Homo sapiens: one gene and its partners. The protein of the gene in region 3 interacts with the protein of the main gene of each other region in a biochemical or structural test. Each region holds a gene or a part of one and is shown on either strand. Other genes may lie near its edges. The genes, in order: SH3GL2, RNF11, ITCH and MAPK8.

What was found.
Region 1: the proteins of ITCH (region 3) and SH3GL2 form a complex in vitro, tested with the Homo sapiens proteins (2 studies listed by BioGRID, with this or other methods).
Region 2: the proteins of ITCH (region 3) and RNF11 form a complex in vitro, tested with the Homo sapiens proteins (2 studies listed by BioGRID and IntAct).
Region 4: of the proteins of ITCH (region 3) and MAPK8, one has a biochemical effect on the other in vitro, tested with the Homo sapiens proteins (2 studies listed by BioGRID).

Annotation. Positions count from the first base shown.
Region 1 is NC_000009.12:17,791,446-17,798,263, forward strand, and holds the end of SH3GL2 (endophilin-A1), read left to right. Parts: intron 1-1,921; coding exon 1,922-2,052; intron 2,053-4,098; coding exon 4,099-4,298; 3' UTR 4,299-5,679; downstream 5,680-6,818. UniProt on the Homo sapiens protein: Implicated in synaptic vesicle endocytosis. May recruit other proteins to membranes with high curvature. Required for BDNF-dependent dendrite outgrowth.
Region 2 is NC_000001.11:51,231,689-51,239,973, forward strand, and holds the start of RNF11 (RING finger protein 11), read left to right. Parts: upstream 1-4,584; 5' UTR 4,585-5,068; coding exon 5,069-5,191; intron 5,192-8,285. UniProt on the Homo sapiens protein: Essential component of a ubiquitin-editing protein complex, comprising also TNFAIP3, ITCH and TAX1BP1, that ensures the transient nature of inflammatory signaling pathways. Promotes the association of TNFAIP3 to RIPK1 after TNF stimulation.
Region 3 is NC_000020.11:34,435,751-34,444,009, forward strand, and holds part of ITCH (E3 ubiquitin-protein ligase Itchy homolog), read left to right. Parts: intron 1-2,723; coding exon 2,724-2,881; intron 2,882-4,404; coding exon 4,405-4,594; intron 4,595-6,457; coding exon 6,458-6,553; intron 6,554-8,259. UniProt on the Homo sapiens protein: Acts as an Acts as an E3 ubiquitin-protein ligase which accepts ubiquitin from an E2 ubiquitin-conjugating enzyme in the form of a thioester and then directly transfers the ubiquitin to targeted substrates.
Region 4 is NC_000010.11:48,301,968-48,310,639, forward strand, and holds the start of MAPK8 (mitogen-activated protein kinase 8), read left to right. Parts: upstream 1-4,709; 5' UTR 4,710-4,854; intron 4,855-5,261; exon of another isoform or gene 5,262-6,321; intron 6,322-8,672. UniProt on the Homo sapiens protein: Serine/threonine-protein kinase involved in various processes such as cell proliferation, differentiation, migration, transformation and programmed cell death.

The DNA of each region.
Region 1 (6,818 bases), on a different chromosome or scaffold from region 3:
CTTATCCTACAGAGGCGCCTTGTGGATTGTTTTGATTTTGTTTTTTCTTGTGCTTTGTTTTACGTTGTTCTGTTGAATCTAATTTTCTGCTTATGAGAGATCGATACTTGGATTATATTTTGGCTGCCACAGGTGGAACACCAGGATGCTACTGCTGATAATGGATGCCATTTGCTGAGCAGTTATTCCATGTGGGTACTGGATACATATCATCATCAATCTTATAACAGCCCTGTAACCTAAGTGTTTTTAGCCTCGACTAACAGATGAGTAAACTGAGGCTAAGAGAGGTGAAGTAACTAGCCCAGGGTCACTCAGTGGTGCAAGTGGAGTTCACAGCCAGCCATAACCTGTGTGAGAGGCTGTTTCTTTTCACATCTTGTGTTTCTCTGAATGGCGGTCAAGTCCTCTGCCATCAGAGAGAGCTACTTTCACCTCATTAGATGTACCTCACAGCAGGGCTGTAGTAGTAGGAAACTACCGTGTGAATGTGGCTCCGTGGAGTTGTGGGGCACAGCCTGTTTGGCTATATACCAGTGGCCCTATGTTATAATATGTGTTATTTTAATTTAGCCAGATTAAACAGGATGATTTTGCTGAACATGTATACCTCAAAGGGTCACCTCAGCAAGCTTTTTTCTTAGGCCACATGGCCAGATTAGACTCTCACAGCTGATCACATGGCTGCCTGCGTGAAGAAGACACCAATCATACGATTCCACACCTGTTTTCGTTGTTTTCCCTCAGGCTGATCTCATTTCAGTATTTTCTTTGATTCATGGTTTAATTGAGCATTTTCCTTCGGCGCAGCCTTATGGAAATTTATGTAATGCTGAAGCCTCCAGAAAGGTTTTAAAACCATATACTTCAAAGATACTAAAGAAATACTATGTGTCTTTGTAATGTCTCTTGAGCATGAAGGGAGCCCTTTCCTTTTTTTCCTCTGAAATATGTTCAAAGTCAGTATCATTCTACAGTTACCATACCCTAAACCCTCGCCCTCCCTTGCATATCTCTTACATACTTTGTTTATTGAATAACTGAAACTTTGGAAAATATTTAGGGGTATGTAGAAGACAATTATTAGCCATACCTTTCCAATTTCCTTTTGTCTTCCCTCTTTCCTTTCCTCCTCCCTATATTTCAAACTGCTCATTCTTCTAAGAGCACACAGTATATTTCCTCCTTCCCTCTGTCCAAACCTTCTCATGTTCTGAATAGAATAGCTCCCTTTCACATTTTCATCTGGAAACAGCTCCTGTGTATCTTTTAGTTCTCTCCTTAAACCTCCTCCAGCTTCCTTATGGAGAGATAGACTCCTTCCCACCTTCACCCACAACCACACCCCTGTGTTCCTGTGGCACTTTGTAGATATCTCTGACAGTGCTTACTAAAATTTATAGTAATCAGTTGTTTGTGTTCTGTCTCCCTTACAGACCATAATCTGTTTGTGTCTTTTTTAAAATTGAAAAAATTGTGGGTACATAGGTGTATATATTTATGAGATACATGAGGTGTTTTGATAGAGGCATGCAATGCATAATAATCATATCATGGAGAATGGGGTATGCATCCCCTCAAGCATTTATCCTTTGTGTACAAGAACTGTGTTTTAATTCATTTTTGTGTTCCTGGTACCTAGCACAGTGCGTATTTGGATAAAGGACTCTGAATAAATGAGAGAGGAAGTGAGGGATTGAGAGAGAGAATGAAGACAGTGAGGACATGGCCCCATAAAGGGACATCACCAAAATCTCAGACATATACATACAAGAAAACTAAGGGTCCTTTTTTGATTTCCCACACTTCATCATGGTAGCATGGTGGGTGACCCAAGCATTTCCTGAATCTTTATATTTGCTTTTCATTTTACTTCTTAACTGGTTACATAACCTTTCCACCACTTTTCTTTTTACTGCAGAATAAGACAGGCTTCATCTCAGCCTAGAAGGGAATATCAACCTAAACCACGAATGAGCCTGGAGTTTCCAACTGGAGACAGTACTCAGCCCAATGGGGGTCTCTCCCACACAGGCACTCCCAAACCTTCAGGTAAGAGCTGAAACTGCAGATCCTATTGCATAGCCCTTGGCATATCCATTGGCACTCTTCCAGAAATTTTAGGAATAGTCCAATCTGGCTGCATAGGAAATATGCAGTAATACATTTCTTATGGAGTCAGTTGTCAGGTAGAAACTCTGTTAAAGGAATCCTTTTGTCTTTTTTTCATTTACCTTTTCTTTCCTTCCTTCTCATTCTTCTCTATAAAACTTTCTTTGTATATCCCATTTTCTCTGTCAATCATCAGCACACACGAACACATTTTGTTTTGACCCTCCTTTGTGGTCGTAAATCGCCTTTCCTTGTCAGTTTGGTCTGCGAGTGTCATCTTTTCTCCTGCGTGTTCGCTCTGAATCCAGCCTGTATGACAGTGAATGCCCCTGGACAGTGTGTCCCCACATGCATTCGCATATAACCCACAGACAGCAAGCGGCTCCAGAAATGTGCTGATGAGCTGGATTTCTTGAGTCACAGAAGCATATGGTTAAATATATTTGTAGAAGATGATATTTTGAAACTCGACACTTGCTGGGTTTTCCTTCCCATGCCTCACCTCTGATCACTTTATCATGCTGTGGCACTGGGGTTGATATAATAAAAGCTAGATGACATTTTATCTCAGGAATATCGATGCATACCAAATAGAGCATTCTTTACCTTGTCACACTTGCTCTCCACTCCTACACGCAGATTACACAACAGCCTGTGCTGGAGACATTTTCAACCTCCACATTTGCTTGTTTGAAGTGGGAACTGTCTTATACTGGATGTGGATGTTAGAGATAGGTAGCTTTCTTTTATTTTTCCTGTATCCCCAGTGCTTGATGTTCTACTGTAGAAAACTTTTTATAAGATGCTCTCAGGAGACTTATTAAGAAAAAAAGCGAGGTCTGAGCCGGCAGGTGGTGCTCTCTGTCCTTTGCGCTCAGCACTTCAGGGCATGACATAAGCAGCTGTGGCTCCTGGAGCTGGCCACCAGGACTAGTCACAGAAATTGTGTATAGCTATGCTTCTCCCTGTCTGAAAACCAACCATATATTTCACTTTTCATCTGGAGACTCAGTAATTTGCTTCTTTCTCTAAATAAAAAAATAAATTACATTGTTTCCTTTCCAGCCACCTAGATGGCATGGGAACTGTGTGCACTTGTCTGAGTCTGTATCTACATGTGTATGTATGTAGTATTAATACAGCGGGTCATTTGGAATAGATCCCTCTTAAGATATGATTTCATCCTTCATTATTTTACTCAAGGTGGAGTACATTATTTTTGTATGCCATAGCTCCAGTGCACTGCATATATTTATGTATGCAACAGTTTACCTTACCAAGTATAAATTACAAAATTTTTTACATAATCTCATTTAGTAGCCACAGTAGTAATGTGAAGTAAGTCCTACTGTTACATCCAATTTCAGACAGTGAAACTGAGAGCGAAGTACCATGTGCAAGGTCACAGAAAGTAAAAACTTGAACTCAGTGTTTTATATTATTCCGTTTTCACCACATTACAGCAGTTTTCCAGAGGCTGGGGTTATCATTTTAAAGAGTGATAACCGAACTGTTACTTAAAAGCATTCTCCATGTAATTCACCATACTTTTTCAGATATGCAAAGGTTTTAAAGTGCTCAGATGAGAGAATTCTTGCCATGCTGTGTTATTAACCTACATCATTATATTCTTCTTAAGTCATTGTCCCTCCTATTTCTGGGCATTATCACGAAGGCAAACTATAATGAACTGTGTTGTATGTATCACAAGAATAGATGTGACTGTTTTTCATACTGGAAACAGAAACAGGAATATGCAGCAACTTCCAAAGGTCCGAGAAAGCTTCTGAGGATTGGTAGAGGGCAAGATGCCCAGTGCAGTGGACACTAAGGTCCAGTAGCAAGAAGAAGCTTCAACAGGAAGAGGAATGAGGGAGGAAAGACGGGGAGCAGCAAGCCAGGTGGGTACAGCAGGCAGCAGATTCTGTGAGTTAAATACCCCTTATCCTTTTGTGTTCTTCTCTTCTCTCCTGCTCTTACTCCCAGGTGTCCAAATGGATCAGCCCTGCTGCCGAGCTCTGTACGACTTTGAACCTGAAAATGAAGGGGAGTTGGGATTTAAAGAGGGCGATATCATCACACTCACTAACCAAATTGATGAGAACTGGTATGAGGGGATGCTGCATGGCCATTCAGGCTTCTTCCCCATCAATTATGTGGAAATTCTGGTTGCCCTGCCCCATTAGGATGTTATGCTGGCTGGCTCGCCTCCTCTTGACCCAGATAGTTACGGTTAACCACTGCTTTGGCAATGCTGCTTATAACACATCCCAAGTGCAGGCCGCAGTGGTCCACGTCATCCAGCCCCACCAAGTGACTTTGGTTGACTTGTGGGCTCCCACAGGAGTCATGGTGATGGATGATATCCTCTTAGCCTGGTGGGCGTGGCATGTGCTTTTTAAAACATCATCTGAGACCAGCCAGTAGTCACAGAACTGCTGTTTACACAGTTCTCAGGAGGCTGTGGTTTCTTAGAATATGACCATGAGCCATTTCACAGAAAAACCATCCCACCGAAGATATTGTCTATCACCCCAGGGGCCATCTGAAGGTCTCTTTGCATTTCTCCATGCAAAGAGGAGAAAGCTTTTGCTTTCACACTGTCCCTTCCCAAATATGTGAGTCATGGAATTGTCAAAGTAAGCCTTCCCTCACCAGCAAATTGTCTCCTGATCTGAATGAATTTGTCTCTTAATGCATCCATAGAAAAGTGTTAATTGTGGGTTCAAAGCATTCTCTGCAAATAGGCATCTCAGCTCCTCACACTTATGGCTATTTCTGACGTATAGCCAGTTTTCTTCCCTCCTTGCTATTAAAGCCAGAGCGGTAATTCCAAATTATTTTTCAGTAAGACAGTTAATCAGCATTATTGTGAGAGGGACTGAAAAGAAATTCTCCATTATGAGGAATTGGGAAGAAATCTGGTATCCAAGCTTAAATTTCTTGCTATACAGAAACTATGTATGTATTTAGGCTATTTCTGAAGGGCACAGGGAAGGGGGAACAAATATCTTCACTTCAGTTTTATTTGTGAATTACATGTTTCATGAATCCATTTGGCACAGAGACACAAGGAAGAAAACACTAGTAACCATCTTTCCACTAGTTCATATACTGAGAAACAGTAAATACCTTTCCTTTCCACTTTTACCCTGTGTTCTTTGAACATCATTTGTGCAGATTCTGCCCTCAATGAGGACCAAATAAAGATGATTTTTGTGCTTAGCAGTTTAAGGTATATGGCTGCATATGCAAAACTCTTTCCCAATTCAGTCGCTACTTTTACTTCTGCCCTTTCTATCCATCGTCTTCATTTTGTGTGTACAGTGCTGTGTGTAAGCTTATCAGTGTGTTTTTTTATTTGTATCAGTCATGAAAGTCCTGTTAGGTATGCAGAGTTCTATTTATCTAGCTGTACAGACTCTTTCAGAGGTTTAACGTGCTGCTTCCGATGTGCCACCTGCAGTAGTGGATCATGTGGAGTGAAAGGCAAATCTTACTGCTTAATGTATAAACTCTCACCACAGGAAGCATCGCTGTTTCCAATAAATATTGCTGAAGACAGAACCAAAGGCTCTGCTCCTTCATTTTGTGTCAGTTCTTTGGGTCTAACACTGGGTGGATGGGGGCTGGTTTCAGTCTCCATTGCTTTCTCATGCAGCCAAACAAGACCTGGCTCCAACTTCATATCTACCTCTTTACACATAGGAAAAGTTTCAGCAGCAAGGAAGTAGCTAGCCTGGACATTGGGACCTTCCTGGTAACCCCAGGAAGGAGGAGAATTTGGGAGAGAAGAAAGTAAGGAGAATTAGGTCTCATAGATGTTAAATGATATATTGTTAAAAGTGGTATCATCTGAAGAATATAATGTTAGGAAGGGGAAATAAAATATATCCCTTCGAGTAGCCTCTTATTTTCTTTCGTAATTGAAGATAAAGAAATAGACATGGAAAAATAGTTTGATCGAAAGTCACTATTAGGCCAGGTGCAGTGGCTCACACCTGTAATCCCAGCACTTTGAGAGGCCAGTGCAGGTGGATCAACTGAGGTCAGGAGTTCGAGACCAGCCTGGCCAACATGGAAAAATCTCGTCTCTGCTAAAAATACAAAAATCAGCTGGGCATGGTGGTGCATGCCTGTAGTCTCAGCTACTCAGAAGACTGAGGCACGAGAATCACTTGAACCTGGGAGGCAGAGGTTGCAGTAAGCCGAGATCACGCCACAGCACTCCAGCCTAGGGTGACAGAGTAAGATGCTGCCTCCAAAAAAAAAAAAAAAAAAAAAAAAAAGGCCAGTATTATTTTCTCTTGATGTATATGTTTGGGGTGTGAGTGGGAATAGGGGAGCAGCAAGGCACACAAAATGTGTATTTTCTGAGTTCCCAGGAAAATAAACATGTTCTTTGTGTATTAGGGGCCATTTCTATTATTTTGTGCTGAGGCCAATAGTCCAGATTTTCTAATCTAACATGAATAGTTGTAATTAAATATACTAAGTTTCTGTTAGTCCATTTTCATACTGCTATGAAGAAATACCCGAGACTGGGTAATTTATAAAGGAAGAGGTTTAATGGACTCGCAGTTCCACTTGGCTGGGGAGGCCTCACAATCATGGTGGAAGGTGAAGGAGGAACAAATGTACGTCTTATATGGTGACAGGCAAGAGAGCATGTGCAGGGAAATTGCCTTTTATGAAACCATCAGATC
Region 2 (8,285 bases), on a different chromosome or scaffold from region 3:
ACACTAGAAGGAAATAACCTCAATAACACAGATAATAGTGAAATACAGTAAAGTAGTTAGAAAGCCACTCGTTTTGGGTATTTATTATGTTTGTTTTTAATATACCTTTTAACTGTAAGTTTATATAATTTAATTTTTAATAATGACTATGTTTAACAACAAGGTCACACAATTCCTGAAATTCTAACAATTGACTCATATGAGCTAGTATGAACCAACTCTAGCACATCTGTTTATATCTTACATCATTTGTAATATGGGGATATCAGTAGTGTCCATTTCATAGAGTTTTGAGGGTTGAATGAATTACCAGAGAGGGCAAATAAAACACATGCTGTCTAACAGAGAGTGTTTTATAAGAGTTTGCTATGATGGCTATTATTCAACTTGGGCCAAAGACAATGTTATTTTCACATCTGATTAGCTTGTGAGTATCCAAAAGAGCCATGCTGTGTTAGGCCCTAGTCACTCTGCAGATCATTTAATTAGCATTAAATGAACAGAAGTAAAGCATTTGGGACAGTGCCTGACACATAGGAAGCACTACATAAGTGATAGATACAATTTTATTCTGGTAGTTTTATTCATTATTATCAAGACCACATGGCCGGGCATGGTGGCTCATGCCTGAAATCCCTGAACTTTGGGAGGCCAAGGCAGGTGGATCATTTGAGGTCAGGAGTTCGAGACCAGCCTGACCAACATGGTGAAACACCATCTTGATTAAAAATACAAAAAGTTAACTGGGCATGGTGGACCCCGGCTATAATTCCAGCTATTCAGGAGGCTGAGGCACGAGAATCACTTGAACCCAGGAGGTGGAGGTTGCAGTGAGCCAATTGTGCCACTGCACTGCAGCCTGTGTGATAGAGTGAGACTCCGTTTCAAAAAAAACAAAAACAAAACAAAACAAAATTCTATCGTTTTTTTAAACTATGTTAAAATTGTAGCTGATATTTTACTCATCCACAAAAAAATAATGGTCAATAACCATTCATCTTTTCTAAAATATCATTTCCTCTGAGCTCAGGGGAATATGCAACAGTTATTCTCTCACCAGACACAGAGGTCTAAAGCTGTACCTTTGTGAGGTAGTGATATATATATGCTCATGGAAGCAAAAGTTAAAAATAAAAGTAGAACAAATATAAAGGTCTGAATGTAGCCCTGCTAACTGTTCACCTACTTGTCTCATCTACTTGAGTTTGAGCTATTTGAAGGCAGGGACCATGTCCAAGCCATTAATGGGCTTCAAATGCTCCTCCCATCTTCTGGTGAACAACTAGCCTTGTTTGTTTGTTTGTTTACTGAGACGGAGTCTCACTCTGTTATCCAGGCTGGAGTGCAATGGCGTGATCTCGGCTCACTGCAACCTCCGCCTCTCAGGTTCAAGTGATTCTCCTGCCTCAGCCTCCTGAGGAGCTGGGATTACAGGTGCATGCCACCATGCCCGGCTAATTTTTGTATTTTTAGTAGAGATGGGGTTTCGCCACATTGGCCAGGCTGGTTTTGAACTCCTGACCTCGTGATCCACCCGCCTCGGCCTCCCAAAGTGCTGAGATTACAGGCGTAAGCCACTGCACCCAGCCCAAGCTAGTTTTAAACTTAACAATATAACTTATTTTCACAAGGCACTATAGAACTTTTCAAGGGCTTGTGTCAGTGTTACCCACCTGTGGAAAAAAAGAATGAAAAACAAAACTTAAAAAAATAAATCTGGCCTGGCGAGCTGGCTCACGCCTATAATCCCAGCACTTTGAGAGGCCAAGGTGGGTGGATCACCTGAGGTCAGGAGTTCGAGACCAGCCTGGCCAACATAGTGAAACCCCGTCTTTACTAAAAATACAAAAAATTAGTTGGGCGTGGTGGTGCGCGCCTGTAATCCCAGCTATTCAGGAGGCTGAGGCAGGAGAATTGCTTGAACCGGGGAAGTAGAGGTTGCGGTAAGCCAAGATCGCACCATTGCACTCTAGCCTGGGCAACACAAGCAAAACTCTGTCTCAAAAAATAAAAATTAAAAAAAATTAAAACTAACTAAATAAATCTATGTCTGGCCAGGCATACAGTGGCTCACACCTGTAATTCCAGCACTTTGGGAGGCTGAGGCGGGAGGATCGCTTGCGCCCAGGAGTTTGAGACCAGCCTGGGCAACATGGCAAGACTTCGTCTCTACCAAAAACAAAAACAAATGCAAGGCATGGTGGTGTGCATCTGTAGTTCTAGTTACTGGAGAGGCCTGAAGCAGGAGGATCACCTGAGCCCAGGAGGTTGAAGCTGCAGTGAGCCTCGATCAAGCCAGCCTGGGTGACAGAGTGAGACCCTGTCTCCAAAACAAACAAACAATGTCTACAAATTCTAGCACTGTGTAAATATTATGTCAAATAATTGTATAAATTATTATTAATAAAAATTTCTTTAGGTTTGACAATAATTTGTGGGGTAAATTTTCTCACTTTGTAAAAATTCCAGGGTACCTCTGATTTCTGGTAAATTTAGCCAATCATAAATTAAATGAGTTCTTGGAAGCTCAACAATTCCAAAACCAAAATTGTGAGTCAGTTTGTTCTTTCTTTCCTTCTTTCCTTTCTTTTTCTTTTTCTTTCTTTCTTTCTTTCTTTCTTTTCTTTCTTTCTTTCTTTTCTTTCTCTTTTCTCTTTCTCTTTCTCTCCCTTCCTTCTTTCCTTCCTTCCTGCCTCCCTTCTCTCTCTCTCTCTTTCTCCTTCCTTTTTTTTTTGAGACTGAGTCTTACTCACTCCCTCGCCCACGCTAGAGTGCAGTGGCACAATCTGGGCTCACTGCGCTGCAACTTCCACCTCCCAGGTTCAAGCGGTTTTCCTGCCTCACCCTCCCGAGTAGCTGGGACTACAGGCGTGCACCAGCACACCTGGCTAGTTTTTGTATTTTTAGTAGAGATGGGGTTTCACCATGTTGGCCAGGCTACTCTCGAATCCCTGACCTCAAGTGATCCACCCGCCTTGACCTCCCAAATTGCTGGGATTACAGACGTAAGCCACCACGCCTGGCCCAAAATTATGAGTCTTTTCAAAAATTTTATATCAAAAAGGTGATATTTAATGTGGAATTTGAGTGCATTTAAATAAGATAGTGACTTCGTAGAATAGGGACTGCAGAGTAAGAGTGTTCAGACCCATTCGAGTTTAATATAGCCCTACCTCTAAGAATCCTTTCTGTTCCTCACTCAAATGAACTAATTGCTGTCTTTCAGTTCCTCTAAAAACCTTGGGGTCCGTGGCAGGGTGTGGGCTTAGGACTCACCTGATTACTTGTCTTCCCAGGTGGTCTCTGGGCTCTATCAGGAACAAGCCAGGTATGATCATCCTTTTCCCCAGTCCTTAGCGTGGGGTCTGGTATACACACGCACACACAACTTCAGTAAATGGTGAATGAAACGAAAGGCAGTCAAGATCCACCTGTTGAATGAACGTCTATCAGGAGCACTGTCATCCTTCTTGCTTCCTTCTTTTGCATATGTTGTTTGAGCTGCTCATTCAACCAAGGAGAGAGCATACTCTACCTTGGGCAGTGTGCCAGCCTTGCACAGAGGGACAGATGATTCAGCTTGATCAGGCTGTGACAGAGAAAAGCTCAGGGTCTGAGAGCACACAGGATGCGACTAACCCAGACTGGAGGGTCAGGAGAGTCTCCCCAGGGGAAATGAAGTTGCATCCAGAAGGATTCCTGAGAATAATGATTAGCCTGATGAGAAGCAGAAAGGTTGGGAGTGGAGGGAAGTGGGTTTCTGTGAGAGAAACAATATGGACAAAGGCCCCAGGCAGAGGCAATAGTATTCCAGATAACGAAAAGCATTTTAGAGAGTCTAGTTTAGAATTTGTGAAGGAGGTGACAATGCTGCTAATGAGATTGAAAGGGAGTCAGATTTGTAAACCATTTAAGGATTGTCTTAAGGACAGCCTTGAGGAGACACTGAAGGTTTTAACAGGAGAATGACATGATCCGATTTAAATTTTAAAAAGATAACTCTGTCAACTGTGCCAACAGTGAATTGGATGTGGGCAATGATGAACTCAGGAACAGCTGAGAGTCTATTGCAGAAGCCAAGGTGAGAGATGATGGTGGCTTGGACTTTGGTGCTGGGACTGGAAAGAAATGAACAATCTGATATACAACTGGAAGAATAATCTCTCTGGCTGTGATGTGGAAGGATAAGGACGTGATTGGACAGGCAGGGATGGTTCAGTAACGAGCTAGGACTTTATTGTGAAGGGATAAAGGGGAAGCTTTTAACATTTTAATCATGGGACTGATCCATTCCGATATGGGTTTATATAAATAGACCGCTTGGCGGAGGGTGGTGAGAAGACTGTCAGGCAGTGCACAGGTAAGAACTGAGCCCTAGACGGGGCAGGAGCAATGAATGTGGGGAGGCGCGGGAGACGGGAGATTGGTTTCGGAGCCAGGTACGGAGCCAAGCAGTCAGAGAGAAGCAAAAATTGACGCAGCACCGAGAACAGCTGCTAGTGGAGAGGGGGATGGGCGCCGCCGGAGCCGCCCTCGCCTCCTGGCGCCGGGGGCGGGACCAGAGCACGCACGGCGCGATGACGCAGTGCCCGAGCCGGCCTCGTTCTGGCTGCCGCCGTCTCGCTGAGGCGGAGTAGGATGAGGCCCGCGGCCGTGGCTCCGGCGTCGGCGGGGGCAGCAGCAGCTGAGGCAGCAGCTGAGGCAGCCGCGACGGCCGCGCCCCCCCCCGCTGACCTGGATTAGGCCCAGCAGCTCCGTGGCCGCCGCCGCCCCGCGGGGGGGCGGGGTGGGGAAGTGCTTCGTCTCCCCGCCCCCCCCCCCCCATCGCTGCCTCGCAGGAGGCGAACGCCGCGACCCCAGCGGAGCCCGCGGCCCAGCCTTGATCCCCCAACCCCGGGGGCTGGCATGAGCGGCCCCTCGGCGGCACCGTGGGGCGGTGGAGTCGCCTCCGCCTGATCCCCGGCCTGTCGCCCGACCCCACCTCGCCAACCGAGGCGGACCGCGGAGTGTGCGAACGACCCCACCGCTGCTTTCTCCTCCCCCAGATCACGCACCCCAGCTCCGGAAGATGGGGAACTGCCTCAAATCCCCCACCTCGGATGACATCTCCCTGCTTCACGAGTCTCAGTCCGACCGGGCTAGCTTTGGCGAGGGGACGGAGCCGGATCAGGAGCCGCCGCCGCCATATCAGGTAGGGGAGGGTGTGTGTTGGGGGGAGCGAGTAGAGGCAGCTCTGGCGGAGATTGAGGGGGCTTCGGGGCCGTCTCTGCCCCTGGCTTCGGCAAGGCCTGGCCTGGGCGGCATTGACCCCTTAGGGCTGGATCTGAGGGCATTTGCTCTCTGATCTCAGAGTAAGGTTGATTCTTCGCCTGCCCTCGGGCACCGTGTGGGGATGATACCCTCTGCCCTTGAGTTCTGGGATCAGAGTATGTGATCACATCCCCTTGGCCAGTGTCTGGTGGTTCGCTTGTGGAGTTTGGGAGTGACATTTTCCTGTCTTTATGTCTGAATCGTATGATTTCCTCATCGCACCGCCAACTGGATTATGGGTTCTGGATAGGTGGTTGCCAAGCACCACCCCCCCGCCCCATTTATGTTTTCATGTGTGGTCGTCCTCTTACCCACCTCCCTCGTCTTTTTGTTAATTGGATCTGGCAGGTTTTCCCTCTGCTTGGGAGACGGATCTCCAAGTGGTGATTTTAACCCTAGCGACATCGAGTTACTTGTGTGTGTGTGTATATATATATATATGTGTATATATATATATATATATATGTATATAAATTTTAATCCCTCCTCTTTTTGCTCCACCCATATGACACACCTTTTAAACGTGCTGACTTAAGAAAACTTGATTAGCTTGAACTTTGGAAACCTTTAAACCTGGCTTGGGAAATTCCTTCGGTTACTCGTGTTCTCCCTTTGTATCAAAGACTCTCCTAAATACGTTGTACTGCTTTTTGTACAATAATCAGTAGTCCCAGATGTGTTGCAGAATTCGAGTGAAGACCTCTTAAACTCAAAATAGGTATGTGGATGTTATAATCCACAATAGATGTGTGAAAACCTTTCCTGTACTTTTTCCATTTTAGATGATATTGAATACACCCTTTTCCAGAGGGCTTCAATAGTAGTAGTGCTTAATTTCTTCCTGAAGAGTTTAGTTTTCTGACTGGGTAGGCTCCTTTGTTGTTTCATGTGATGACATCATTATCTAGTGTTTTCTTTTCTCATTCCTGTGTAAACCAATGTCTCATCACACCAGAAAAACCTGATCATATATATGCTCGTTTTCTGAATAAAATTCTTCTGGGGGCATTTCATATATACCAGTAAGGTCCAGTCTTGATTGTGGTATTACAGAAGCCTCCATGACTTCTCCCTCTTACGTTCTATATTCCAGGCCTACCAAATACACCAGGCTGTTCACAGCTTTGTTTTGCTCCAGTTCCTCTCTGCTTGGAGCCCTTCGCCCGGGTCAGCCAGGTGGACATCTAATCCTCTTTGAGAACTCAGCTTTCATGTCTGAAGTCCCAGCATTCCCTTCCTTCCCAGCCCGAATCCCTTGTGTCCCCACTGAAACCTCTACACTTCCATAAGCAATATCTATAACACTTTAGTGTTGTATCTTTGTTAGATGTGTGTCTCATCCTTGTAATCGCCTCCTTCAGTGCAAGCTGCGTGAAGGTAGAGAATCTGTGTTTCCGGTTTGCTGTTGTATCCCTCGCATCTGCCTCAGTAGGGACTCAGTAACTGGGAGATAAATTACGAGTAAAAGCCCTTGAGAACAGGGACTCTCCCCTCGCTCAGTTTCTGGCACATAAGCACCTAAATGCTGAATTAATTAATGAAGTTGAATTTAGTATTTTCTGTATTTACACAAATATTTTTTCCAAAGTAAGTTGTCACAGGGTAGTCTCTTAAAAATCAAAGCTGAATCTGGGTGTCTTTACAAGTACCTTTGAGTGAAGCAAGCAAGCTATGTTTATCCTTCACTGTCTTTCCCTCCTATGTTTACTATACAACAAAAGTGCTTATTTAACTTTTTTTTTTTAATGAGATGGAGTCTCGCTCTGTCACCCCGGCTGGAGTGCAGTGGCACAATCTCACTGCTTACTGCAACCTCCACCTCCCGGGTTCTAGCGATTCTCCTGCCTCAGCCTCCTGAGTAGCTGGGATTACAGGCGCGTGCCACCACACCTAGCTAATTTTTGTATTTTTAGTAAAGACGGGGTTTCACCATGTTGGTCAGGCTGGTCTTGAACTCCTGACCTCAAGCAGTCCACCCACCTCAGTCTCCCAAAGTGCTAGGATTACAGGCATGAGCCACCGCATCTGGCATGAAGTTTTTATTTTAAAATCTCTTATGCTCCCTACCCTCACCCCCTTCTATTTTTAAAAAAATAGAGACAGGGACTCCTATGTTGCCTAGGCTGGTCTTGAACTCCTGGCCTCAAGCAAATTCTCCTGCCTCCTATCCCCTTTCTTAATTGAATATCTTTGACTTGTTCTCTTTCTCCTATCCTTATGATAATTGTACTATTAAAGGTACTAGAATTTATGGAAACTGTGTTTGCCTTTTCCAGAAGAACTAGGTGATGATGAGGGATGAGGGGTTTTTGGTGTCATGAAGGAACTTTTTTTGGAAATGTTATATTTTTGACAGTGGGAGTTTTTTATGGTTGCAGTTTCCTGAAGTGAATGACGCAGACTAATATACAAATTCAGTATCAATCAGAAGAAAATTACTTTAAAACATGGGAGCATAAAAAGAAACTTTTGGAGAAAAAGTATTGTCCCCCACCCCCAAAGAAATAAGATCTGTCTTAGGAATGGTTATTTTAGATGATCTGAGAAACAGCAATCCAAGGTTATTTATTCATTTATTTGAGTTGAGAATCTCCCTCTGTCATCCAGGTTAGACTGGATTGCTCACTTGGCAGCCTCAAACTCCTGGCTTCAGGTGATCCTCCTCCCTCAGCCTCCCAAAGACTGGGATTACAGGCGTTAGCTACCTCACACAGCAGATTTATAGTATTCTCAGTTGATAAAAGTAACTTTTTCAACAAATTATATGTAATTAACAGTGAATAGCTGATTGTAAAGGAACATGTTCTCTTGAGGTGAGTAGTTAAAAGATGTCATTGTTTGCTGCTTTATATGTACAATGTACATATAATGACAAGAGCCAGTTACAGTTATTTCCTATTAACATCTGACAAATTTGTTTTTATTTATTTTTGCCTTAAAGTAAATCCCTGCACCATTATGATCCAAGTTTGTAG
Region 3 (8,259 bases):
GGAAGCAGTTGGGCAAGGGTGAAGGAATTGAAACTACTAGGGAAAGTAGCCTATGATGAAGCCCAAGTGAGGCGTGAAGTGAGCTGATGAACTGTAAAGATTCTGGAAGGAGTTGAAGGTTGTGATGAGACTGAATAAAAGATACTGTAGGAGGCAGGTAGAATAAATAGGAAGTTGTAGTTAGAGGGATTTTAGAGTTCAAGATCTAGGAAGAGGAACAATTCTAAGTATCAAGGAAATTTAAGGAGTTGTACGGGTTATCAGATGACTCCATTGAAAAATTGAGATCAAAATGTTATAAGGGTGTACAGCATTGATGTTAAAATTCCCCAAATTTTAATCCCCAGCAACAAATCATAGCATTTTTGGAATCCTGTTTCTGCTGTACCTTTATCATAGTAGGTTTATCTCATGCACTGAATGTTCCTTCTCCCTCACATATCCCTAAAACTTGTCTAGCACTGAATGTGCAATTTAGTATGAATTTTCTAGCTGAAAGATTTTTAGGCATCTTGTAGTCAAGATAATACATTTTAGGATGCATTCTTGGGTCACATAACTCATCAGTAGCAGAGTCAGAGCTAGAAACCTTAATTTCCCAATTTTTGGTCTATTCTACTCATTGTTATCTGTTATTTAAAAAGCAGCAGGAACTCTTCTTTCAAACTAGTTAGGAACGTCTTAAAATAGCATGGAGAGGCAATACGCAGTCTTAAAATGGTTTTGGAAACCTCACTTAGAAGAAGAGAAGCAGTGTCAAAGCTGACTCTTCCTGCATTCAGACCATGTTCTGCAGGTAGTCAACACTAATCAGGTGCTGACTGCCAATTACTGAGGTGTTCCCTCTATTATAAGCATTTGGGGAACCCCCAAAGTAGTGCTTGTCATACCTTACTGTCCACATATATAATCTGGGGATCTTGTTAAAATGCTAGCTCTGATATAGTAGGTCTAGAATAGTTTTGAAGATTGTGCATTTCTGACAAGCTCCTGTATAGTGCTCGTCCGTTTGGTTTAAAGACCACACTTTGAATAGAAAGGCCCTAAAGGATTTCTGTGGTACACAGTTTGAAAATGTCTTTTAAAATATGAGGACTGGTACGCAGTGGCTCGTGCCTGTAATTGTAGCACTTTGGGAGGCCAAGGAGGGAGGATTGCTTGAGGTCAGGAGTTCAAGACCAGCCTGGGCAACATGGCGAAACCCTGTCTCTACGAAATACACAAAAGAATTAGCTGCGCGTGGTGGCAGGTGCCTGTAGTCCTACCTACTCGGGAGGCTGAGGCATGAGAACTGCTAGAACCTGGTAGGTGAAGGTTGCAGTGAGCCGAGATCACACCACTGCACTCCAGCCTGGGCGATGGAATGAGACGCTGTCTCAAAAAAAAAAGGAAAAAGAAAAAAACTATGTGAGGAGAGAGAGATGTTAATTAGCTTGACTGTAGTACTTTTTTTCACTATGTATATCAAAACATCATGTTATACTGTTTTTATTAAAAATAAATCATTGCAATACATGTTTTACAGAAAAAAAATTTAATACATGGTACTGCCTCTCTGTTTCTTTGTTTGTTTGAGACAGGGTCTCACTCTGTCTCCCAGGTTGGAGTGCAGTGGCGCAAGCTCAGCTCACTGCAACCTCCACTTCCCAGACTCAAACAATCCTCCCACCTCAGCCTCCTGAGTAGCTTCGACTACAGGCGTGCCCTGCCATGCCCAGCTACTTTTTAAATTTTTTTGTACAGACAGGGCCTTGTCATGTTGCCCAGGCTGATCTGTCACTCCTGCGCTTAAGTGATCCTTTCACCTCAGCTTCCCAAAGTGCTGCAATTACAAGCGTGAGCCACAGCACCCGGCCTCTGTTAGTTGAATCTATTAGATTTTATTTTGTTCAGGCTTATTCTGAAATTCCTAGGAGTATGGGTTAGTACTGTGTAGTGGTTTGGAGGTAGTACATACCAGAGCCTTGGCTGAGACATCTGCAGACTGGCTACTTATGCCCTTGTTTCTAATCTATGACTAGAGCCCCTCTGGAAGGAAAAGGAATCAGCTATATTTAGCCAACAGTAGCAGTAGCTTTCAGTCTGACATTTCCTGTTAGTGTTCTTCCCTCCTTTCTATCCCTCCAGTTGATGTCATTGCTTTGAAGAAATGACAGCTCCTTTAAAAAAAGTCTGTGGTTACTTCTACTCTAAATCACTAGCTTTGAACATTTTGTGTACCATTGTACTGAGCTGGGGGATATCAGGGCCTAGTCCCTGGGAAATACGTGCACTTTGTTCTCCTAGCATGGGAAAACCAGACCTGCCTCAAACTTGAATTAATAGCCAGTGGAAATCAAGAAACAACAATGGTAAAGTTATCTGTGCTTGTGATAAAATAGTGCCCTAAGGATTTTGAGAACTTGACTTTGTTCCTGTTCATATAGGGCCTTCTGAAGGCTTATTTGAAATATGAACCAGCATACCTAATAGTTCTGAATGGCCACAAGTGTTCCTATGCCCTTGGACAACCCATCACTCTATCTCTAGATGAACTCTGGGGGTTATATAGGATTCTACCCAAAGGCTCTTTATGTATTTAATAAGGCTGACCAGAAATTAAAAAGCTTTTTTGAAGCTCTTAAAAACTTAGAAGTTTTCATCCTCCTGCTGTTTTTTTTCTTAAATTCAAGGAGTATTCATTATTTCCCTCTCCCCCTTCCTTTTCCCCTCTTCTTACCCAGAGTGAGCACAAATGGATCAGATGACCCTGAAGATGCAGGAGCTGGTGAAAATAGGAGAGTCAGTGGGAATAATTCTCCATCACTCTCAAATGGTGGTTTTAAACCTTCTAGACCTCCAAGACCTTCACGACCACCACCACCCACCCCACGTAGACCAGGTTTGTATTCCAGCTCTCAATACTCTTGGAAATAATGTCCTGGTTGGCAATTAATCCTCAGGTAAGTGTCAGGAAATTCTTTTAGGTGAATTTTCTGCGTGTATTTTTACATTTAAGATTTTGGAAAAGAATGATCTTTCTGTAGGTAACCAAAAGTGCCTTTTTCCTAAGTTTTTGTTCAAGGTGACGTTACTGAGGCAGTGCTCTACTGAGAATGAAAATGACATGTGCGTAATATAAAGTATAGGCGGTGCAGATAACATGGCAATAACATTGTACCTTTCTTAAATGGTTTGTAACTATAACATAAATGTATTAAATACTCAAGGATTTGGTTGCTTATTCCTAGTATATCCTTTAAAAAGTTAGTAAACGAAAACCCAACAATGCTAAATGACCCAGATTTTAAATAAAAAGTACACAACAAACAAGCATATTTTAGGTAGTAAAAATGTGAACACCTATAAGACTATCCACTTCTCTGATAGCCAGAACAAATCTTTAATCTTACCTTTTATTGTTTCTCTCTGCTAATATGTGGGCAGGGAATGCAGTGTAGTTAAACCAAATATTACTAGAAAAGTACATTAGTTCTCTGCAAATAATTTTAAGTGAATTTCTATTCAATTATACATCTTCTCCTTTTTATTTTTTTATTTTTTGAGACAGGGTCTCACTCTGTCACCCAGACTGGAATGTGGTGACATCTCAGCTCACTGCCACCTCTACTTCCCAGGCTCAAGTGATTGTCTAGCCTCAGCCTCCCGAGTAGCTGGTACCACAGTCATGAGCCACCAATGCCTGGCTAAATATTTATATTTTTTGTAGAGATGGAGTTTTGCCATGTTGCGCAGGCTGGTCTGGAGCTCCTGAGCTGAAAGTGATCCTTCTGCCTCGGCCTCCCAAAGTGTGGGAGTTACGGGCGTAAGCCACTGCAGCCACATCTTCCCCTTTTATAGATAATTTGATTAATTGTATATTCTGAGTCTTTAAGATGTCTTTATTATAATCTTGGTGACTTCCTCTAGACATTGTTTTGTCCACAAGTATTTCTTAAAGGTGTAATGTATGACTACTAACTATCTGTAAGAATGTTATTTCTTATCAGACCTTCCATATTATAACCAACATCAAAAATTGGTCTGTAATCTGCACGGTTTCACAGGAAAGCAGTTTTAAGGAGCTGGAAAATTAATAAATGAACTTAAAATACCAAGGAATATTAATAATTTCCTATTCTAAAAGTTTTTATTTCCAGTGACATCAGAAGATCAGAGAACCTGTACATGCTTCGTGATTAGTAATGGGACATAGGGGTAGACAGGACCGAAAAAGTAAACAAGCCTATTAACTGGCAGCGTTGGTTATTTCCCATTACTTATTTCTTTAAGTAATTTTCACCTGTGCATCTACATCTTAAGTTTTATATTTATCATCTGCCTTTTATTTTTTACAGTTAAAATTCTATCCTGAATTTTAGAAAATGAAAGATTCTTTTCCTATTTTCCCCAAATCTTTTATAGCATCTGTCAATGGTTCACCATCTGCCACTTCTGAAAGTGATGGGTCTAGTACAGGCTCTCTGCCGCCGACAAATACAAATACAAATACATCTGAAGGAGCAACATCTGGATTAATAATTCCTCTTACTATATCTGGAGGCTCAGGCCCTAGGCCATTAAATCCTGTAACTCAAGCTCCCTTGCCACCTGGGTGAGTAACTTTTTAAATTAACATATGTTGTCTTTAGGATTCTTCATAAGCCTACTTATTAATAAGGAAAATAACAGTAAACAACAGTAAACTCCATTGTTTTGATGACTGTTTTTTAATTTCTTTTTTTTTTGAGATGGAGTGCTCTGTCTCCCAGACTGGAGTGCAGTGGTGTGATCTTGGCTCACTGCGACCTCCGCCCCCTGGGTTCAAGTAATTCTCCTGCCTTAGCCTCCCTAGTAGCTAGGATTACAGGTGTGCACTACCAAGCCCGGCTAATTTTTGTATTTTTAGTAGGGGATTTCACCATGTTGGCCAGGCTGGTCTCGAACTCCTGACCTCAAGTGATCCGACCACCTCAACCTCTGAAAGTGCTGGGATTACAGGCATGAGCACCCAGCCAACTGTTTTTATGTTATTGTAACTGATTTTGGGGGATCTGGAGTCAAAATGAACAAGGAAAACACACCATATTTGAAATCTTCAGGGCAAAGTGGAAAAATATATTTTTTCATCAAAGGACCCTGAAAGTTAACCAAGGCCAATTAATAAAATAATCACCTAATTCCAATTGCCTTTTTCTTTAAGGGGGAAAAAATCCCTTTTTAATATCAAACTATTTTTTTCATCAGAAGATCATTATAGGCTGGGCATGGTGGCTCACGCCTGTAATACCAGCATTTTGGGAGGCCGAGGCGGGCTGATCACCTGAGGTCAGGAGTTCGAGACCAGCCTGGCCAACATGCTGAAACCCCATCTCTACTAAAAATACAAAAAATTAGCTGGGTGTGGTGGCAGGCGCCTGTAATCCCAGCTACTCGGGAGGCTGAGGCAGGAGAATTGCTTGAACCTGGGAGGCAGAGGTTGCATTGAGCCAAGATCTTGCCACTGCACTCCAGCCTGGGCAACAAGAGCAAAACTCCATCTTGGGGAAAAAAGAAAAATCATAGCAAAGTGATAGATAATTCAGAAAACTGAGAAAATTTGTGCTCATAATCCCATTTTAATCTCTCCTGATTATTTTAAGATTATTTTCATAGATTGTTTTTAAGATACTCAGGTGTAATTTTTTCTTGTTTATTTTTTGTTTGTTTGTTTGAGATGAAATCTTGCTCTGTTGCCCAAGCTGTAGTGCAGTGGTGGGATCTTAGCTCTCTGTAACCTCCGTCTTCCGGGTTCAAGTGATTCTCTTGCCTTAGCATCCTGAGTAGCTGGGATTACAGGTACCTGCCACCATGCCCAGCTAATTTTTTTTTTTTGAGATGGAGTCTCACTCTATTGTCCAGGCTGGAGTGCAATGATGCAATCTTGGCTTACTGCAACCACTGCCTCCCAGGTTAAAGTGATTCTCCTGCCTCAGCCTCCTGAGTAGTTGGGACTACAGGTGCCCACCATCATGCCCAGCTAATTTTTGAATTTTCAGTAGAAACGGGGTTTCACCATGTTGGCCAGGCTGGTCTTGAACTCCTGACCTCAAGTAATCCACCCGTCTCAGCCTCCCAAAGTGTTGGGATTACAGGTGAGAGCCACTGCGCCTGGCCATTTCTTTCCACTCAAATCCTGATTATACCCTGATTGAGAGTGACTTCGGTATCCTAGGTAGACGGACCTCAAGCCTCTTCAGGAATATGTTTTCTCCTAGAGCAGATACTTGCATAGAAGAAATTGAATTCACTGTGTGCCACTGCCTGAAGATTACATTTCTTCACTTTATTCCTAAATTGTATTTGTATCATCTTTCTAAACTGATGTCCTTATTTGCCTTAGTTCAATAATGGTCATTTAATGGAAATGCAAAGACAGGATTAAAAAGCCAGGTAACTCATGCAAGTATTTTACCAGCCTTTTAATTTTGTATTTAAGTTGGGAGCAGAGAGTGGACCAGCACGGGCGAGTTTACTATGTAGATCATGTTGAGAAAAGAACAACATGGGATAGACCAGAACCTCTACCTCCTGGGTAAGTATCTAAATTTAAAAAGAATAATTTTATTTAGTCAGAATTGTGGATTACAACTGTATAATCTTCCCTACATTTCTGTTTTACTTTTTCTTGTCAGCCCTTTCTCTGTCCACTTTGTTTTGTGGTAAGTACAAATTAAAAAGAAGAGAGCTAGACAACTGATTAATTCAGAGCCTGATAAACAATTTTTGTTTTCACGCATATTTCTTTCTTCTTTTCTTTATTTTATAGAAACAACATCTCGCTATGTCGCCCAGGCTGGTTTTTAACTCCTGAGCTCAAGCCATCCTCCCGCGTTGGCCTCCCAAAGTGCTGGGATTACAGGCGTGAGCTATCATGCCTGGCCCTATTTTCACTCATTTCTGACCTAAAGATTCCTTAGGTGGGCTGGGCGCAGTGGCTCACGCCTGTAATCCCAGCACTTTGGGAGGGCGAGGTGGGAGGATCACGAGCTCAGGAGATTGAGACCATCCTGGCTAACGTGGTGAAACCCCGTTTCTACTAAAAATACAAAAAAAAAAAAGCCAGGCATGGTGGCGGGCACCTATAGTCCCAGCTACTTGGGAGGCTGAGGCAGGAGAATGGCATGAACCCAGGAGGCGGAGCTTGCAGTGAGCCGAGATCTCGCCACTGCACTCCAGCCTGGGCGACAGAGCAAGACTCTGTCTCAAAAAAAAAAAAAAAATTTCCTTAACTTTTCTTGTCTAAGCTGTTTACCTGTTTACTAATACTGTAGTTTAAGTATTAGTTTCTTCAAGAGTAATTATTTAAATGAATAAGAATTAGAGCCCAGTCATATATTAAAATGAAGTTCTTATTATATTTAAAAAACTATAATAGCAAAATCATTTCAAATTAATTGGGGAAGTTAAGGATATATTAATACATGGTGTTAAGCCTTTAACATTAACATTAACATTACAGTCCAGGCACGGTGGCTCGCGCCTGTAATCCCAGCACCTTGGGAGGCTGAGGTGGGGGGATCATGAGGTCAAGAGATCGAGACCATCCTAGCCAACATGTTGAAACCCCGTCTCTACTAAAAATACAAAAATTAGCTGGGTGTTGTGGCGCGCCTGTAGTCCCAGCTACTCCGGAGGCTGAGGCAGGAGAATGACTTGAACCTGGGAGGTGGAGGTGCAGTGAGCTGAGATTGTGCCACTGTACTCCAGCCTGGCGACAGATCAAGACTCCGTCAAAAAAAAAAAATCATATAAAATAATTGAAGAAAAAATATTTTTTAATCCAGAGGAAAGTCAGTAACAAACATGGAAAAATACTTAACCTTGTTAGTAATCTGAAGGAAATATACCCTGAAAAGGTACTGTTTTAGTTATTAAATTAGCAGATAATATCAAGTGTTGGTGAGGAACTTTACGTTGTTAGTTGCTGCCGGGGCTGGGCACAGTGGCTGATGCCTGAAATCCTAGCACTTTGGGGGGACAAGGTAGGATGGGCGCTTGAGGCCAGGAGTTTGAGACCAGCCTGGGCAGCATAGTGAGACCCCATCACTATAGAAAGAAAAAGAAATTAGCTGGGCATGGTGGCATGTACCTGTAGTCCTAGTTAATCAGGAGTCTGAAGTGGGAGGATCTGTTGAGCCCAGGAGTTCAAGATTACAGTGAGCTGTGATCATGCCACTGTACTCCTGGGCAACAGAGCCAGCCCCTGTCATCCTCCCTGCATCTGCCCACCATAATTAT
Region 4 (8,672 bases), on a different chromosome or scaffold from region 3:
AAAAACAGAAAATACGCCAAATTTCTTAGGGCACTGGCTTTCATTTTTGGCTACAAATTAAAATTACCTGAGGGGATGTGAAAATAGCTACAGAAGCCTGGGCTCCACCCCAGACCACTGGAGAAGGAGCACCAGACATGGAGCCTGGGTGTGGGTAGTGTTTTGTTTTGTTTTGTTTTCCTTGAGACGGAGTCTTGCTCTGTCACCCAGGCTGGAGTGCAGTGGTGTGATCTTGGCTCACTGCAACCTCCACCTCCCAGGTTCAAGTGATTCTCCTGCCTCAGCCTCTTGAGTAGCTGAGATTACAGGCTTGCGCCACCACGACCAGCTAATTTTTGTATTTTTAATAGCGATGGGGCTTCACCATGTTTGTCAGGCTGGTCTTGAACTCCTGACCTTGTGATCCACCTGCCTCGGCCTCCCGAAGTGCTAGGATTACAGCTGTGAGCCACCACGTTCAGCCGGGTGTGGGCAGTTTTAAAGCCCCTCCCCACCCAGGTGATTAAAATGAGCAGGGTGACTTGTGAGTCAGTGTCCTGCTGCTGGGATTCTCAAACTCAAATGGGCATCAGAAATGCCTTGGGGGGGCTCATTAAAACACAGATTGCTGGGCTTCTTCCTCAAGGTTTCTCACTCAGCCGGTCTAAGGTGAGTATGAGAATTTGCATTTTCGACAAGTTCTCAGCTGATGCTGGTCTGGGGAACCACAATTTGAAAACCATCGTCTTAGAGGAATAAATGCTGACCTTTTTTTTTTCCCATGGAAATATGCATGTGTACTCAATCTATAAACTTGACTAGCTTAGTTGGTTCTCTCTTGCATGTACCTGTAAGCAAAAACAGGGTACCACTTGTAACTTCAAATCAGAGTTCTGCCCATTCTGTCTCCACTTCATTTTGTTCAAGTTGCGACTGAGGAGCTCGGGCCATTTTTGGCCCTTTCCTACCCCTGAGGAGCCACAGTTCTTGCAGCTGGAGGATGGATTTACAATACGAACACTCATCTTTCCTCTACTCATGCATCCAGGGTCTGTCTTGCTTTATCGGGAGCCAGCAGGCTCCACCTTGAAAGATTCTCAAAGAACATCCCTGAGTCAGGGACTGACTGACCAAGGTGCTGAACCTCTCCCTCCTGTTGGGGGAAAAGTAGACTTGACTGGAGACATGGGTGGGAGACGAGACTGGGAGGCTTGAAAGCAAGGCTAACAGAGAAGGATGGTGGTGGAGGTGGAGTCAGGGGAGAGGGAGTGTCCTTGGAGATGCCCTTCTGCAGGCTTTAGTTGGTAAGTACCTTCCCACCAACCCAACTCCCCACCCCTGGGGTGAGGTCAGGGAATTAGGAAGTAAGTTGAAGTCTCAGCTTTCAGTTTCTGCACCCTGAACAGCTTGGTGATATTCACCTGACTACCTTAGCCAAAGAAACATCTTCAGTGCAATCCATTGTGTGTGGTCTGGGATGACAAGGGAAGAGATACTCTGGTGGAGTGCAACCTCTTCTTGAACATCCCTCAGGGCTCCAGCAGAGGCTGAGTTTGAAAGGCCTACAGTTCCTCTTCTCTCCTTTCCCCATCCCAGCCTCAGAGGTATCCAAAGACCAGGTGTCCCCAAGACAGCTCCCCTGGGACAAGAGACAAGAAACCTGAATTCACTATATTTTCCTCTTTTTCTGAGTCAGCCCCTTAATAGGTTAACAAGGAACCCTAACAGGTTGACAAGAAAGAATTGCATGAAAAGGAAGAAGAAGGCCCAACACTGCATCTGGGTTACAGAAAAGCATTTTGAATTTGCAGAATATCAGAGATAATTACATTCCATCAGAAATAGCAAAATGCTTTCTGAAATCAATCATACACACACACAAACACACAAACGCACATATGTAAATATGTGGAATGTTCTTTCTAGTTGTAGATAATCAGAAGCTGACCATGGTAGACTGATACTAAGTCAGAAGCTCACTCTGTGGAGTGAGACAGAGGCGGTTATTAACAATAGCATCACAGAACTGGGCGTGAAACTCTGGAGCTCTGCTCCCAGCAACTCCCCTCACTTCACAACAGCTCTAAGGGTTGTATTGTTTTTTGTTACCTCCAGGCCTTTAATTTGTCTGGTGAAGAGTAGGTGGTACCTCTGTCTGTGCACTCAATCACACCCCGTTCTCTCTGGAAACACACGTCTTCCTTCTCTTTTGTGTGTATTCAACCTCTCCCTCTCAACAGTCTTCCCATCAGATGTAAAATATGCTTGTGTCCTACTTCACTGCCCGACTCATCCATATTCACCACCTTTATTTTCTCACCTCCCATTCATTTCCCAGCCCACTCTAATTCACTTCTGGTTCTATTACTCCAGGATTCCAAGCCTCCTCTTATGTTTAATATTATTGATCAGCCCTTTCTTCTTGAACACCTCTCTCCTGGTTATCCTTCTATCTCCCTGGCAGCTCATCACAGACTCATCTTCCCCTTTGTGGCCCTTTAACACTGAAGTTCCCCAAGCCTGGTTGCAGGCCCTCTCCTCAGGCCTAGGCTGACCCATCTATCCCAAGGCTTCAAGGAATCACTCACTGTCAATGATTCGTCTCTTAACTAGCTGAACCTCAGCTCTGTATATCCAACCACCAACTTAACATCAGTTTTGGGCATCTCAAAAGCCTTCAAACAGCCAAACAGCCTGCTCTCATGATATTTTAATGCCAGTCTGGTCCTTTTCCAAGATTCCCATCTTGGTAAACCAGCACTAACATCCATCCTTGGCCACAAGCCAGAAACCTTTGAGTTTTCCTTGATGACTCCCTCTCCTTCATTGCCCCACATAACCCATCACTTGGAGAATGTGCAAGTTCTGCCCGTTGGACCTCCTAAATAATTCACAGATCTTTCCATGTCCATCAACTATTTCCATGACCATCACCCTAGATCAAGCTTCCACCTCTTACCGTCTAGGCTACTCCTACATCCACCTGGGCTCTTTCCAATAAGGAATCTTTTCAAGAAGCTATTCTGACCATGCCACACCCTTTGCTGAATATGTCAGGGGCTTCCCATTGCACTTAGGATAAAAAGATTTTCAACATGGCCAATATGGATGTCCTACGTTTGGTCCCTTTACCAATCTTCCTGACTTCATCTCATAGCTCCTTCTTCCTTGCTCCTCCAGCAGAGCTGGCCTTTCCTGAATTTCTCCATCTTATCCTGCTTAATCTCATCAGAGGACCTTTGCGTGCAAAGCTACCTCTAAAATATTCTCTGTCTAGTCAAACCTATTCCCAGCTCAAGTGACAGTTCCTCAGGGAAATCTTTTCTGGCCTTATTAACTAGTGTATTAATTGGTTTCATAGTATTATGTATCCTTAACAATTTGTATTATAAAACAGTGATAATTTTGCGTTTACTATTATTACTTTCATAGTACAGTGATTAAATCTGTAAACTCTACTGTATTGCCTGGCACTGAATGGGCATGCAATAAATAATTATTGCAGGAACAAAGGATGGCAGGAAGGAAATTAAGAAGGTTGAGAGGGAGGGAGAGAGGAAATGGGAAGAGAATGAATGAATAATCATCTGTATGTTCCCTTTCAGAATCACCAGAAACAGGCCAGCCCCACATGTAATAGGAAAGTAGTTTACCTGAAATCATTCATTTATTCAACAAATATTTATATATTCATTATTAAAGTAACTTACTTGTTTCTGATTGTGAACATAACTATTCCTCTCGGAAAACATGAGAAAATACCCAAAGTATAAACGAGAACCAAGTCACCCTTTATTCCATAGTCCAATGATGAACCATTGTTAACATAATTTGGTGTATTTCTTTCCAGGTTTTTTCTATGTGTATATATAGTATCTAAGTGGGACCATTCTATATATGACTTGTTTCTTGCTTCTTTCTCTTAATGATACATTGTGAACATGTTCCTATGTTGTTAAGAATTCCTTGAACACATGGCATTTAAATTGCTAAAATGTATTCTACCGAATGGTGTAGGTAGTTCAAACGCCTTTCCACCCGTTGTTGGATATTTAAAGGACTTGTCAATTTATCGCTTCTGTAACATTTACACGCTTTGTGGGGCCTCAGAAGTAAACCAGGTAATGCAAGGAATCTGGGAAGAGGTGGATTTGCAAGGAATCTCGGAGGAGGTGGATTTTGGAAAAACTGGAGGCAGCTTTTCCCGGGCAGCTGAAGAGAACACTTATCTCTCTGTAGGTTTCTGGGACCCGGACAGGTGTCCTCAGAATGGAACATATTGTCGGTCAAGGTAACCAGCTCTTCATCACTCAGGTGTGTGTACCGGAAGGGGGTGCCTGTTCGCTGCGCAGGTTAGGCCTAAGCGCACCTGCCCTTCAACCCTGTGCCGACGAGGCCCGAAGGCTTAAGCTCTGACCTGGCTACCGCCGCCAACCAGATGCGGTCCCCTGGGGCCACGCGCCGCCACGTGCCGCCACAGGGCCCGCCCCTCCCGCTCCAGGCCACGCCCCTCACCCACAGCCCTCGGAGGCTCTCTCCGCGGCTCCGCCTCCAAGCGACCTCCGCAAGTCCTCTCGTAACCCCTGGAGTAGCGCCGTCCCCGGGCGGCGGCCCCGCCCCCGCAATCCGGGCCCCGGGGCTGCCCCGCCCCGCCGGCCGCTCGGGAGGCGCGGGGGCGGGGCCCTGCGCGATGACGTGCGCGGGCGTGCGCGGTGACGGCCCGCGTCTCTGTTACTCAGCCGAGCGGCCGAGGCCGGACGACGCGGCTTGGATTGCGGAGCCGCGAGCAGCGCTGGGTAACGGCCGCGGCGACCACCCCGGACGGCCCCTGTCCCCGCTGGCGGGCTTCCCTGTCGCCGTTCGCTGCGCTGCCGGGTGAGTGCGGCGGACGCCGCAGGGCCGGGACGGCAGGCGGCCCCGTCGTGTTTATGTTATTGTGCCGCTGCCGCCGCCGCCGCCTTCTCCTCAGCCGTAACCCCCTCCTGGGAGTGGGGGCGGGAGCGCGCGGTGGGCGGGGGCGGCGCGGGAACAATAGCGGCGCGGAGGCGGGGGCCAGCCGAGGGGGCGTGGGGCTGCGGGACCTGGGTGCGCTCCGCTGCCCGCCAGCCCGCCTGCCGCCGCGAGCCCCGCCCGCCTGTCCTCTCGCGTCCTCTTCGCGTGGGTCCTGCCTCCGCGGCGGGAGAAGAAAATGGAGCGGGGGGGTGGGTGGCAAGTTCTGAAACACTTCGGCAAGGGTCGGACGGAGGTGTCTTTGCGGCCCGCCGCGCCCTGGCTGCCTCCGGGGCGGCGGGGAGCCGGGGAGAGCGCTTCTGCCGGCAGGTCCCCAAGCCTGCCCCGCGCCCATAGGGACCGTATTTTGCTTCTCGATGCTTTCTTTGTGCTAACGTTCTGGGCGAACGCAGGCAGCAGCGCTGAAAAGGGCCAGAGTGGCCTGCAGCTCTGGGCTGCAGGGCAGAGAGCCCAGGCCCGTGGCTCGGGTGGGAGGTGTCCATCCAGCTTGGCCCGAGCTTCGGTGGTCAGCGCGCATTTCTCTTGAGGGTCATCGGTGGTGACCTTTTGACTTTTTCACCCCACCCTCCCATCTCTTTGTCTCGCATTTGTGTTCCCGATTCAGAGATGGTAGAACCAAGTCCATTTTAAAGTACCCTGATGAACACTTTCCGTTTTTATTTCTGAAAGTTCCCTGCTTGGTCTTTACTGCGAATTTAATAACATGTTGACTACATGGCATTGTCCAGTGATTACTATTTTTACCTCTGAAATCCAGCGATCTTTCCAGTAGAATTCTGGTCCGTCAGTCCATTGTGTTTTGAGATAAGCATCCAGCAAGTACCTCCTTGGCAATTAGAACATCTGTTTTTTCATTCATTCATTCATTCAGCAGCTGTTTAGTACCGTACTCAGATGAAGAGGTTTGGTGTGAAGGTAAAGTATCCTTTCATGGAAGAGGATGCTTTGACTGAAGTATAATAGATGGACCTTTAAATGAGACAGTTACATAAGTGATGTCTGTTAAGGAAGGTATGGTTATATTCTGGGTCATTTTTTAAGCAGTATATCTGGAAGTTCAAGTGTAATAGGAAGTAGAATTAGATTTGGTCTAAATATACAACAGCTTTTATTTATTTCTAAATTTTATTTTTTCCAGTCTTGCAGCCTTACAGTCATTTGTAATGGTTACCTCAGATTCCCCTGCTGTGGTTAACGTTAAACCTAGGAGGTCAGATGCTCTAAGTGAACATGTTTAGTGCTGTGCCTGACAAAAGCAAGCAATCAAAATGGGACTTCCTTGAGGGCAGGCCTGTCTTGCATCTGTTTCTCCACCACCTAGCCTGGAATATAGTAAGTGTTCAATAAAAGTCGGATTGATGAAAAGCTCTTTGTAATTGATAATATTTAAAATCAAGCCTTAAAAAAAACCGTAATGTTCTCCATAAAGTTTTGGAAGCTTCATGCAACTGTCGCATCAGATGGCTAAATGGTCAGTTCATGTACATTATCTGTTATGATGACATGGGCTTTTGAATCACGTGTAGGTCATTCACTGTCCTAAAATAAAATCTTGTCTAAATATTTTTTTAATATGATAAATAAAGTAGGTTGTGGAGTGTGTGTTTCTGTGTATGTGCTAGTTTATGTGTGTCCGTGTGTGTGCATGTACGTAATCCACACACAGGCACTCATAAACTGGTATTTCAGTAGGGGTCTAAAATGATTGCATTTATAATTTTGTGAATATTATTTGAAAGTTTTTTGGTGACTCTTATTGTGGAAAATTGAGGACAAAACCACATAAATGTTTTATTAGAAATATTTCTAATATTTTAGAAATGTTTACTTGAAATGTTTGGTTTTAAGTTCTAACTTGTATTAACACAATTGGTACAAAATATGAGCCTAAAACTCAAAATAATTGATTTATCGAAGTTAAAGCTCTTTTCCACTTACTAAATACAGTTTAGCGTTTGTTTTGTATTTGAAAGAATATGAAATGAGTTAACTAATGAGTTTCTTATTATTTGCTGTAAAGTGGAAATGAAGAAATAAGAAAATAATACTTTTTTAAGATGATGGTTGAAAATCTTTGAGATACCAAAGTTTTATTGCTTTACCTAGTTAGGGTATGTCAGATTCTAGTAGGGGTTACTGACAATCCTTTGGCAGTAGCTCACAGGCTGTGTAAAGAACCAGAGTTGTGTTACTTTGTTTTCCAAATTGTTGGTTTTTAAAAATAGCTTTATTGCAATTTAATTGACATAAAATTCACCAGTTAGAGTGTATATATTTCGGTTTTTAGTATTTTCACAGTGTTGTGCCTTGATCACCATCACTAATTCCAGAACATTGTCATCACCCCAAGAAGAAACACCATATCCATTAGCAGTCACTCTGAATTTCACTTCAAATTATCCTTTAAAGTAAGAGATATAGCATCGATTCTGTTAGTAAATATATTCCTTTAGTAAGTATGAAAAGGGCTCCTTTTAAATGTCCTGTCCTGGCAGAATAGGAAACTATATCCTTCATACTCCTTTAGATCCTGGGGGAAATGCCATTTGGAAAGGAAGTCAGTGCAAGAATAAATTGTATACAAATTAATGTGGTTATAATCTTAACTATTTGCTCCATGCCTGATATTATCAAAGTGACCTTGTGAGGATGAGATGTTCAGTGAAACAACTTGAAGGAATTTGTTGTTAAATGACTAGTCCCCAACTATCCTAGTGCTAAGAGGTTGTTGAATAGGAGCCTGCTTCTTGTTGGTCTGCTTTGCCAGCGGGTTGAATTTTGACATATTTCAGTCATCTACATGGTTGAGATGCTTTGTTGCACGAGTGGAAATACAAAATAATGTCTGACATTAGGATTCCAGTGCTCTAGAGGTCTCTGGTCAAGTCAATGGTATGGGTAGTAGCTTTTCTGATTCATGTGGTCCAAGGAAGTCATTATAACCACATAGCTTTATATATGAATCATTTGCCTATGTCAGTGAACTGTGATGCTGATTGTCTTAATCATGAGCTCTTTACCTGAACATTTAGAAGCCTTGCATTCTTACTCTTAATGCAGGTTAAGTTGAACTTTGATTTCAGAAGTGAGTTGACTGAAAGGTAACAGGAGTATTGAAATGAGTTATCCTGTCATTCAGGTCAATAGGTGGAGCTAGAGCAATCCAGGAATCAGACCTAGGTTCATTTCTCAGTTCTGCCATCTGGACTTTGTCATCAAATTCTGGAGCTTTAGGCAAGTGCCTTAATGTTTTTGGCTTTAAAAGTATAAACTGAGGCTGTCAGAACTTTTTTTTATAGAAGGCTTGTTCCTCAGATAGGTGGTTCTTGAGAAAACATACTAGGACAAAAAGAGCCCTTCTTGGGTGATAATCAGAAGCCTAAGTTAAGAACAGTAGTCAAAGTTAGGATTTTGTAATTTTGTAATTTTCAGAAGCCAAAAAAATTGTTGAGTTGAATTTTTTCTTTAATATCCAGACTTAGAAAACAAATGGAAGGCTTCACCATAAGCTAGAGATTCTTGGAAAGGTAGGCTTTTATTTATTCCACAGCATCATGCCTTCTAATGAGACCGTATGCTCCCAGAGACTTTGTGGAAGACATAAAATGAGTTCATTATCCTCAGGAAGCTTATAATCAAGGATTAGACTGAAGGCATCGCTAAACAGTTAATTTATGCTCTTT